2 linked regions of the Homo sapiens genome follow. The protein of the gene in region 2 purifies or fractionates together with the protein of the main gene of each other region. This does not show direct contact. Each region holds a gene or a part of one and is shown on either strand. Other genes may lie near its edges.

Region 1 (4,912 bases), on a different chromosome or scaffold from region 2:
GCACCTCCAAGCAGCAGCTCCCAGACTACCACATCAACACTGACATCTCTGGCAGGGGTACTCTGGAGCCCTACCCCATTTCTCCCAAGCCTGGGCCCCTTAACTCAAAAGGCTCTGTACAAAAAGTCCTCTAATTAGAGTCAGATTGGGAGGAGGCAGCATCCGAGAGGGACTGTGCCCCACAATGTGGGAAAGGCCAACCTCCAACCCATCTCATAACTATGCCCACAGCTTGCTTAAGACAGAGTAGGTGAAAGTATGTGTACCTGCTGAGTGCCCCTACAAAGTGTCCAGTGCTGCTAAAAGCCCTCCCAGAAACCCTCAGAATCCAACTGGAATAAGTCTGGAGGTGAACAATGTCAAACCCACTTTTATGAAAAACAAAGTGACATCTTGAGCAGAAAACCAATACTGAGTTTTATCTGTGCTGCATCCCCAGAGTTTAGAACAATGTCTGTCCCATACCAGGAACACAACAAAAAATACTTCACCACAGACTTGTTCAAATTAGGAAACTACAACAATAGAAGATTTTACATTTCTTCTATACAATGAGTTTTTATGGAGTATATTAAAAATGAATACTATATATCAACATGAAGAGATCTAAGCATACTGTTAAGTGAGAAAAGTGGGCCCCAATAATATGCACTCTATAATTCCATTTTTGTAAGGAAAAATTAATGTATATGTGTATATAGAGAGATGCAAGAAAAGAGTCATACATCTGGCTATATCTTGGTGAAATAATTTCTTTTTATTTTTATGCTTGTTTCTCTAATCTTTCTACAAGAAATTCTATAGCAATTTTTAAAATTATTTTATCATATGCTTAAAATGTAAAGAAAACAAAGCAGGCCCTTCTCAAACAGACTCCAAACGGGCCCTGCCAGCCCTAGTGTTTGGACCCCCACAGGAAAGTCCTGCAAAACCTGCCAACATCCCAGCAACAGTGATTCACCCATCAGGCGACTGGCACTGTTTCTAAACACAGGGCAATTCCAAGACATACAACCAGAGGTCCCACCAAACCTGAACTTTGGAAAAGACATTTACAATCTGGCCAAATGGCCATGAAAAGATGTTTCCAGCTGCAAACCAGCAGCGTCCTTAGCTTCTCTCCTTACCTCATCAGGCAGAATCTCTGCCAAGCTCCCAGCTGCAACCCAAATGCAACAGCCTGAGTTTTAACAATGTATTTAACAGCCTAGAGACAGAACATGAGCTTGCTGAGAACAAACTGGTCTTGCTTGGCACTGAACAAGAACCTGCCTGCCTTCTGTGAAGGGGGAAAACCTAACTGGACACGGCTCCCCGCTGCCTCCAACTCTAGGATAACAGGGCTGAAAGGACCTGTGTGTTCAGCCTAAGAGGATCCAGAGGCTCCAGGAGACCCTGCCACCAAAGCACATGGATGTCCATTCAGGCCTATAAGCTGCTGCCACGGCACCCTAGGCAAGTATGGGGGGTACCCTACTCTCCTTAGCCTCAGTCATCACCCTGATCTGAGCCACCCCTAACTTCCCCTACAGGCATCCTGGCCCCCACTACACTGGCCTCTCCACATGTCATCTGGCCTTCCTCCCACCTCTGCTCTACAAAGTAGCCAGCATGGTTTATCAAAGCCCTCCTTTGGCTCTCTACTGCCGTCAAGATAAAGTTCAAACTCTTTAGCCCAAAGGGTCCTTTTGAGTGTGTGACCAGGCCCTACTGCCCTCTCTAGCCTCATCTCACCATGCCAGGTTTCGTATCTTCAACAACTACTTTATGTGAAAAAATATTCTCCTTCACGAAGAACCTAATAAAGCCAAGATGTTTATCTGTATCTATCCACATACTTTCTCAGTCTGGTACATGAATAGTGGTTGACTTCCACTTCCCCACCTGGGTACCATCACCACCACAAAGTCTTGCTTCAGTAACTAGACAATGAAGTAGCAGAGAAGGCTGTTAAAACTGACATGCAAAAGCCAAGTTGGGTTTTCAGTCATAGTCTTGGCAGAGACTTGGCAGTCTGGATGAGACTAACCCACAAAAGGGAACTACACTTGAGGATAAAATCCATATACCACTATATTGGATGCATCTTACGTCCCACCTTGCAACCTCTTGGTCTCACCCATCTCCCAGGTCCCAGGGTATTTACTTTGCCTCAGCCCAGTGGAGGAGACTATCCAGGCCCACGCCAGAATCTCTGGCTCCTCTCACTATCTCCAGACTCTGTTGAAGTACCAGACTGGCCTCCCCAGTGGCTACCAAAGGGCCCTCATAGGGTAACCAAGTACATCTCTGTGCAGAGTAGCCAGCTTGCTAAAACACCACCTCCCATCCTCCTTTATACCTCACTTTTTTCTTTTGTTTTTTTGAGACAGTCTCGCTCTGTCGCCCAGGCTGGAGTGCAGTGGCACAATATTGGCTCAATGCAACCTCCACTTCCCAGGTTCAAGGGATTCTCCTGCCTCAGCCTCCTGAGTAGCTTGGACTACAGGTGTGTGCCACCATGCCCAGCTAATTTTTGTATTTTTAGTAGAGATGGGGTTTCACCATATTGGCCAGCTGGTCTTAAACTCCTGACCTCAGGCAATCCATCCATCTCGACCTCCCAAAGTGCTGGGATTATAGGCATGAGCCATCGCACAGGCCTGCACCTCACTTTTGTTTTCCCTCACCCTGGCTGCCCTGCAATTACACCTTCCAATAAAGCATTAAGTACTTAAGCTCTGTCTCAGGCTGTTTCCTGGGAACATAGTCTGAGATAAGCACTATTTGTTTCCAAAAATCTTTCATTTCTACTATCTAATTCTCACCCAAACCTTCTAAGCTAGATAACTACCTCCATTTCAGATATAAGATAGATACAAATGACAAACAGCTGAGGCTGAGAGAAGGTTTCCTACATATCTGACATCTGACAGCAAATCAATGACAGAACCAAGAGTCAAACCCAAAACACACTCTGCTAGATATTGCAGCTATCCAGTCCTACTCAATAATCTGTTACCTTAAAGTGCAATGGACTCCCAAACAGGGAAGCCACACTTTGCCCAGGAAGAACATGCCTGCCCAGGTTAAGGACTTTATCATGGGTTACACCAAAGGTTCATAAAGCAGGTCCATGACACGCCTGGCTGGATCTCACCAGAGGGAGGAACGCAACATGGACCCAGAAAACAGCAACATGGTCCCTTAAGTTCAGATGGGCAGTCACTCCTACCTTAGACATGACAGCACTCACAAATAACCAGCCAGTCCAGCTCAGGGCAAGGCAGTACAGTCAAATGGACAGGCACACCTGCCCTAGGGTCAGACATACTAAGAGTTAAACCCCAATTCTATACCACTTCCCGGCTTTGTGACCTTGGACAAGTTATAGGATTCCTCAGTTTCCCCATGTATATAATAGAGACAATACTAGGACCTATATCTCATAGGGCTGTTGGAGGACTGAATGTGATGACAGATGTTGGCAGGTAGCCCTGCACTAGGCATAATTTATGTCAATCATTAGTACCAAGGGCACCAGAGAAACATCAGTGGACCTGAGGCAGCCAGCTGCCCAGCCCAAGTCAGCTGATTCCTGGGTGAGAAAGAAGGTCCAGACTAGGGAACAGTGAAGATGCAAACAAGGCAGAAATTGGGCGATCTCCATGTTCCAGGAGCACCACAAGAAATGAAACATTTAATTCAGGAGAGACTGGAATCAGGTATAATGTAGTACATTGATCATCAGGGGATAACCCTGGAACTGGTCAATCACTGGCTCTAAAGCTCATCAAGCAATGTTCTCTAGCAAAAGGCGGGGGATTGGACCAATACTCTAGGAACTCATGTACTTATATGCCTCTGACCTGCTCATTCCAGGCTCCTACAAGTACCCAGGCCTGAGGATCTCCACTACACCCTGGCCCTCAGAGTGCCAGGTACAAAACAGGCCACACTCTAAGCAAGCACTTCCTGAAAGGTCCAGAGCAGATGCTGGCCTGTTACCAGGCTCAGATAGATTCCATCTGAGCTGGAGAGCACTCTACCCAAACACTTAATCCTCTGCCCTGCAATGACACCAGCTGAACAAGAACTCTCTTCTAGGGCTCCAGTAAATCATCCAGACTTTTCATTCTCCTCTGCTCTGAGGAAAAAAAAAAAAAAAAAAAACTGTCTTTCTATCTCTCATTCCATGTCCGTAACACAAAGCCCACAGACCACAGGACCTTCCAGCCCTCTTTGCTCTAGGACAGGCTGATGTCTTACCCTAAGGAACTTCAAATGTCCAAATTGCTAGATGTGAGCAACTTTCCCGAAGTTTAACTCTCACTCCAGCACTCTGCTGGGCTTGCATGTACTTGCATCACAGCTTTTCCTGCCAACTTCCATCTGCATAATAGTAAACTCTTGACAGACCCCAGGAGCCAGGGACACACCTCCTAGCCCTCTGCACACTATCAGCCAGCGTGGCCACACATCAGCCAAGGCCTTGCTTCCAGTCTCAGACCCTCCCAAGGATGTGGGAGGGCAGAGTGAAAAAGGGAGGCCTTCTTAGGAAATGAGGAGACCCTAGATTCCCTCAACCGACTCATTCCTCAGAGCTGCACCCACGTAGTCTCTTCCTTTGATGAGCACTCACAGCCGGGCTCCTCCCCTGGCACATGGCCAGCTGCCAATATGAAGCAGCAATCTCAGAGTACGAGCTACCCACAGGCAAGAATAGTGCCTCGGCCACCTCCTCTCTCTCGTCCCTCATTCTAGCCCCAGGCACGCTCCAGTCAGAAGCCAAACAGGCAGAAGGCACTCAAGGGATGAACTGAGATCAGCTGGGGCCAGTCTAAACCGGTGACTAAGTAAGCACTGTCTAGAGTACCCCAATGCAGAGCTTTCGACAGGATACAAGGGCCTATCACATGCCACAGACAATGCC
Region 2 (4,912 bases):
CTTTTCCAGGAAGTCTTAGCAGCTCCCACACCGCAGAGCTCGAGATGTAAGCTCTTGCTGCCTGACTTCCCTGACCCCACACCTGGGCCCAGGACCTAACACCCAAGGAGAATGGCAAAGGGTTTTGGGGTATGAGAGGATGTTTGGGGTGTGAGGAGGTCTCTGGGCATTAGCAGTGGCCAACCTGATGCTCTCAATGTCATGCTCTTCCTCCCTCCCCCCTTCTCTCCCACTGCCCACTCCAGGTCTCCCTGACTTGGTCCCAGACCCCAACTATGTGCAAGCATCCACTTATGTGCAGAGAGCCCACCTGTACTCCCTGCGCTGTGCTGCGGAGGAGAAGTGTCTGGCCAGGTAAGGAGCTGAGGCAGAAGTGTAGAGTGTTGGGATAGTCCCCGGGAGTCACCCAGAACCCAGCCTAGCTGTGGCTGCCAGCTAGGCTGTCTGCAAGCTGATGACCCTGGCCAAGTGCCCCAGCCTCCCAGGACCCTGACCGTTTCATCAGTGAGCCTTGCCTGCCCCGAGGGAGTCAGGAGGGGAGGGGAGCAAGCGGGGGCCCAGCATTTCTGTATACTGTACCTCACTATACAAGGAACTCCACTTTTACTGTGGCACTTCATCTTTATATGAGCCCTGAAGGCATGGGTTACCCCCTCAGGAAACTGAGGAGCAATGAAAGGAACTCAAACCTTTTGGATCTGAGCTGTTTAATGAGAAGGTTCCTTTTGGGAGCCCAGGCTTCCAGTGGTCATACAGGGACCCAAGGAAGTCCTATTGGGTGGATGTACCTGCAGGATAGAGCCCAGGAGTATGGAGCCATGTCCACAGAGGACAGTTGTGGCTTTGGCTGGTCCAGGCTGCCTCTGCCTAGTCACAGCAGGGGCAGTGAGCCCGGGGGACAAAGAAGTTTCAGTTATATGTTGCACTGGAAAGAGGGGAAGGAGACCAGTTTCCATGAACCTAGAAGGTGAGCACAGCTGGCTCGCCATTATTCATGGGTGATCCTGCCTCTCGCAGTGTTTGCTTCTAATTTATAAGCAGTTCATATTCTGCTGGAACATAGGTGCTTTGCGGATACCTCCCTGGGCCAAAATAATTAGTTAAGATTATGTTATCTGCTTCTTTTGTTAATATCCCTTTATGTTGAAAGCACCTATTTTTCTTAATTACCTGCTTTTTGGACATTTGAACTCTCTGTTTAGTTTGACTTTTTACTATCTAGGAAACTCTTTAGAATCTCAACATTTTCTCATTTCTAGAACTTCTAGTTCACTGCCACTCTAAGTAGCTGATCATAAACCCTTATCTGTCTGTAACAAGATAAAGAGCTTGAACTAGAATGTAACTCAACTCACTCCTTCATTGAGAAAGTCTTGCTTTAAAAAAAGAAAAAGTATCCGCTGAACTAAGCAGAGTGATTAGGAATGTTGTCGATGTACATTCTGGTGCAAGTTCCCAATCCCATCCCAGACTGGCATCAGTGTGGGAACTGCCCCTGGTCCAGGGACCGCAGGCTGAGTACCACTCAGCCAGCCTGTCTGGGCAGTTCTTGTCTTGTTTCAGTTGTCTTGGGGAAGAGAGCATAATGGTCCTGCTGGAATTCCTCCAGCAATGAGGAACTTACAGCCTCCATGACAGCCCTTCCAGTCTTAAGAGAATTAGTCAAAGTCAAACTATTAACATCACTGCCTCTTCATGAAGGATCCTGAGTGCCCGGACCTGCGCTCCCAGCTGGGGAGAGGAGGCAGCCTGTCCTCTGTCCTGGAGGGTCTCCTGGTACAGCTGGAGAGAACAGCCCTCACCTGTACCCCAGTGACAGAACCAAGACACGAGTGGGAAAAGAGCCAGAAGGACTGGTTCACAGGCCAGGGCTGCTGGAGGTCAGAGGAGGGAGGGATCAGCAAGGGCTGAGGCCTCAGAGGAGGTGGGCGTGGGAGTTCAGACCTGGAGAATCCTGCAAAACTGGAGCCCTGGGGCAGGAGGGCCCTCTGAGATCATTTCAAGTATGGGCCGCAGGCTGGTGCCAGTTCACATGCTGCAGGCAGAACCCAGAGAAGAAAAGGGACCAATTCCAAGTCTCACCACCAGTTTGTGGCCAAGCTGGGCCTAGAACCTAGACCCTTATGGTTTCCCACGGTGTGCTGAGCCGAACAGAAGGGCAGGATTTAACTGAACAGAGGGAAGGAGGATGTTTTGTTTCAACCCAGACATAGACAGATTCCAAGCCTCCCCCAGACAAGGCTGAGGGCCTTTCATCCTGGCAGACAGTCTGAGCCGCCTGTTGTCCAGACATTCTCTCAAAGAGAGCGCTAATCCCTACGACTGGCCACCGCTCCCCTCTGGCCTTAGGATCGGACCTTAATGAGTGCCAGGGAAGAGCCCCTGAGGCCAACAGAGTTAGCTGTCAGCCGTCAGCTAAAGAGGGGAGGGGCCTTCAGCCACCCCTTCCTGTTCCTACCACACATGTGTGTGCATGTGTGTGTATGTGTGCATGTGTGTGTGTCTCCCCTCACTGCAGCCCCTCGTTCCTCTTTCCACCCTTTTCCTTTTGTCACAAGGCCTACCTCAGTTGGAAATCTGGAGTCAGCAGGTGACTTGCGAGCAGGCAATTCATACCAGACCCATGTTCCCTGAATGGAAAAGGGCAGGTTGCCAGCCTGAAGCCATGCAATCAGGGAGAGGTGGTCTGGACCCAGTGCAAGATGTAGATGGTATCGGGCTGTGCTGCAGTCAGTGCTGTTAGAGCTCACAGGCAATCCGGATCCTCTATGTAGAGCAATCAGGGCAGACTTCCTGGAGGAGGGGACTTTTGAGTTGACCCTAGGATACTGGGTGAGTTTTGGAATTCTGGGTCAAGCAAACAGCATGGGCAAAAGTATGGGTCAGGGAAAAAGTTCAGCCTGTTTGGAAAATAGGCTTTGAAGCAGGAACCCAGGGTGTGTGGGGGAGTGGAAGGGCAGATGGGACTAGAAAAGTGAAGAGGCTTTGACCAGAGGACTTCACGTCTGTTTTTCAGGCCCACACCCAAGACATGGCATACTTTGGTCAACAATTAGGGCTCTGTCTTGTTGTCAGAGACTTATCAGAATCTCCTGGATAGGACTTTTTTTTTTCTTTTTTTTAGAAAGGGGGTCTCACTCTGTTGCCCAGACTGGAGTGCAGCAGCACAATTATAGCTCATTGCAGCCTCAAATTCCTGGGCTCAAGGGATCAGTCTCCAAGTAGCTGGGACTACAGGCATAAGCCACCTTACCTGGCTAATTTTTTAATTTTTTAAAAATTTCTTTAATTAAATTAATTTTTTAAATTTTAATTTCTCACTATGTTGCCCAGGCTGGTCTCAAACTATGGGCCTCAAGTGATCCTCCTGCCTCGACCTCCAAAAAGCTCTGTAATTACAGGCATGAGCCAAAGTGCCTGGCCCCCGCAATAGGGCTGTTTTTCAGTGGCCCTTCAGAGATTGCTATGTGCTCCTGCACCTAGGGGCTGACCCCAGCTGAGTCACCTGCAGGTATCAGGGACACTGCCATGCTTGGTACCGCTTTAGAAAGATGCTGTTGGCAGCTGGCGGCCACATGGTGGAGGCCAGAAAGGAGGGGACAGCCAGGATTTCACGGGGTCAGAAGACAGAGGAAGAGGCCTGAGCCTCCGCCACAGTTCGAGGAGACAGAGGAGAAGATCTTCAGGGACAAGGAGTGGGGCTGCAGAACCAGTGGCCAAGGGCTGGGGGTGGGGCTGAGGGGGCCCATGCTGGGTTCTGGTGTCACTGTGCCCCAACCCCCCCTCATCTCCCCCGCCGTCCCTGCAGCACAGCCTATGCCCCTGAGGCCACCGACTACGATGTGCGGGTGCTACTGCGCTTCCCCCAGCGCGTGAAGAACCAGGGCACAGCAGACTTCCTCCCCAACCGGCCACGGCACACCTGGGAGTGGCACAGCTGCCACCAGTGAGTGGGGAGGGGCTGGGCCCGTCCTCTTCCACTTCTCCTCTGGGCCAGGGACCTTGGTGCCTGAGCTCCCCTCCCACCATGAGCACTCTGGGAGACACAGATACTGGATTAGAGGGCCCGGGGAGGTGTTACCTGCCAACTCTTTTCACTGGGGCAAGTGTTTCTCAGAGAAGCCTTAGCCAAAGCTAGGCTGGAAGATGGATATAGAAGGATTGGTCTCAATCAGGGATGGAAATGTCTAGAATACAGGGCATTGCCCAGTGAGGCCATTACAGGTGGGAGCCCAAAAAGGAAGTGAGGGGTCTAGAGCATGTGCTGTCCTGGAGTGACCCAGCTAGGTGGGGAGCACAGAGGGGCCACCCCGCAGTACTCAGGAGACAGGAGAACCTAGACCAGCCAGGAGGCTGTGCCACAGCAGGGTCACCTGAGCCCATCTCAGGATGGGGACAGGATGAGAGGCCCAGGGAAGACTAGGCCCTCTTCTTTCTCCTTCTCTCCTCTGCCCCTAGGCATTACCACAGCATGGACGAGTTCAGCCACTACGACCTACTGGATGCAGCCACAGGCAAGAAGGTGGCCGAGGGCCACAAGGCCAGTTTCTGCCTGGAGGACAGCACCTGTGACTTCGGCAACCTCAAGCGCTATGCATGCACCTCTCATACCCAGGTTGGGCTGGAGAGATGGGGTTTGGGGCATGGGAGGATAAGGAGTTGGGGAGGCAAAGAGCGAGGCCCGCTGAGGCCCGGCAAGTGCCAAGGCTTCTGGCCACTCAGCTCTGCTCACAGTGAAGGTCTTCTCACCAGTCCTCAGGCTGCCACACTGCCCTGCAGGGACTGTTCCCTCCCTGCCCCAGCCCCTTTCCCATGTTATTCCAGGTGATCTGCTCGTGGAGAGAAGGAAACATCGCAACAGTCTGGAGAGCAACACGTCCTATTGGCCTGTTCACCCACCCATATCCCTCTT

Evidence for each region. The genes of interacting proteins can lie anywhere in the genome.
Region 1: the proteins of LOXL1 (region 2) and P4HA2 purify together in Homo sapiens (co-immunoprecipitation; one large-scale study listed by IntAct). This does not show direct contact.

Annotation. Positions count from the first base shown.
Region 1 is NC_000005.10:132,220,918-132,225,829, forward strand, and holds part of P4HA2 (prolyl 4-hydroxylase subunit alpha-2 isoform 2 precursor), read right to left. Parts: intron 1-4,912. UniProt on the Homo sapiens protein: Catalyzes the post-translational formation of 4-hydroxyproline in -Xaa-Pro-Gly- sequences in collagens and other proteins.
Region 2 is NC_000015.10:73,942,609-73,947,520, forward strand, and holds part of LOXL1 (lysyl oxidase homolog 1 preproprotein), read left to right. Parts: coding exon of another isoform or gene 1-46; intron 47-245; coding exon 246-354; intron 355-3,808; coding exon 3,809-3,946; intron 3,947-4,458; coding exon 4,459-4,615; intron 4,616-4,912. UniProt on the Homo sapiens protein: Catalyzes the oxidative deamination of lysine and hydroxylysine residues in collagen and elastin, resulting in the formation of covalent cross-linkages, and the stabilization of collagen and elastin fibers.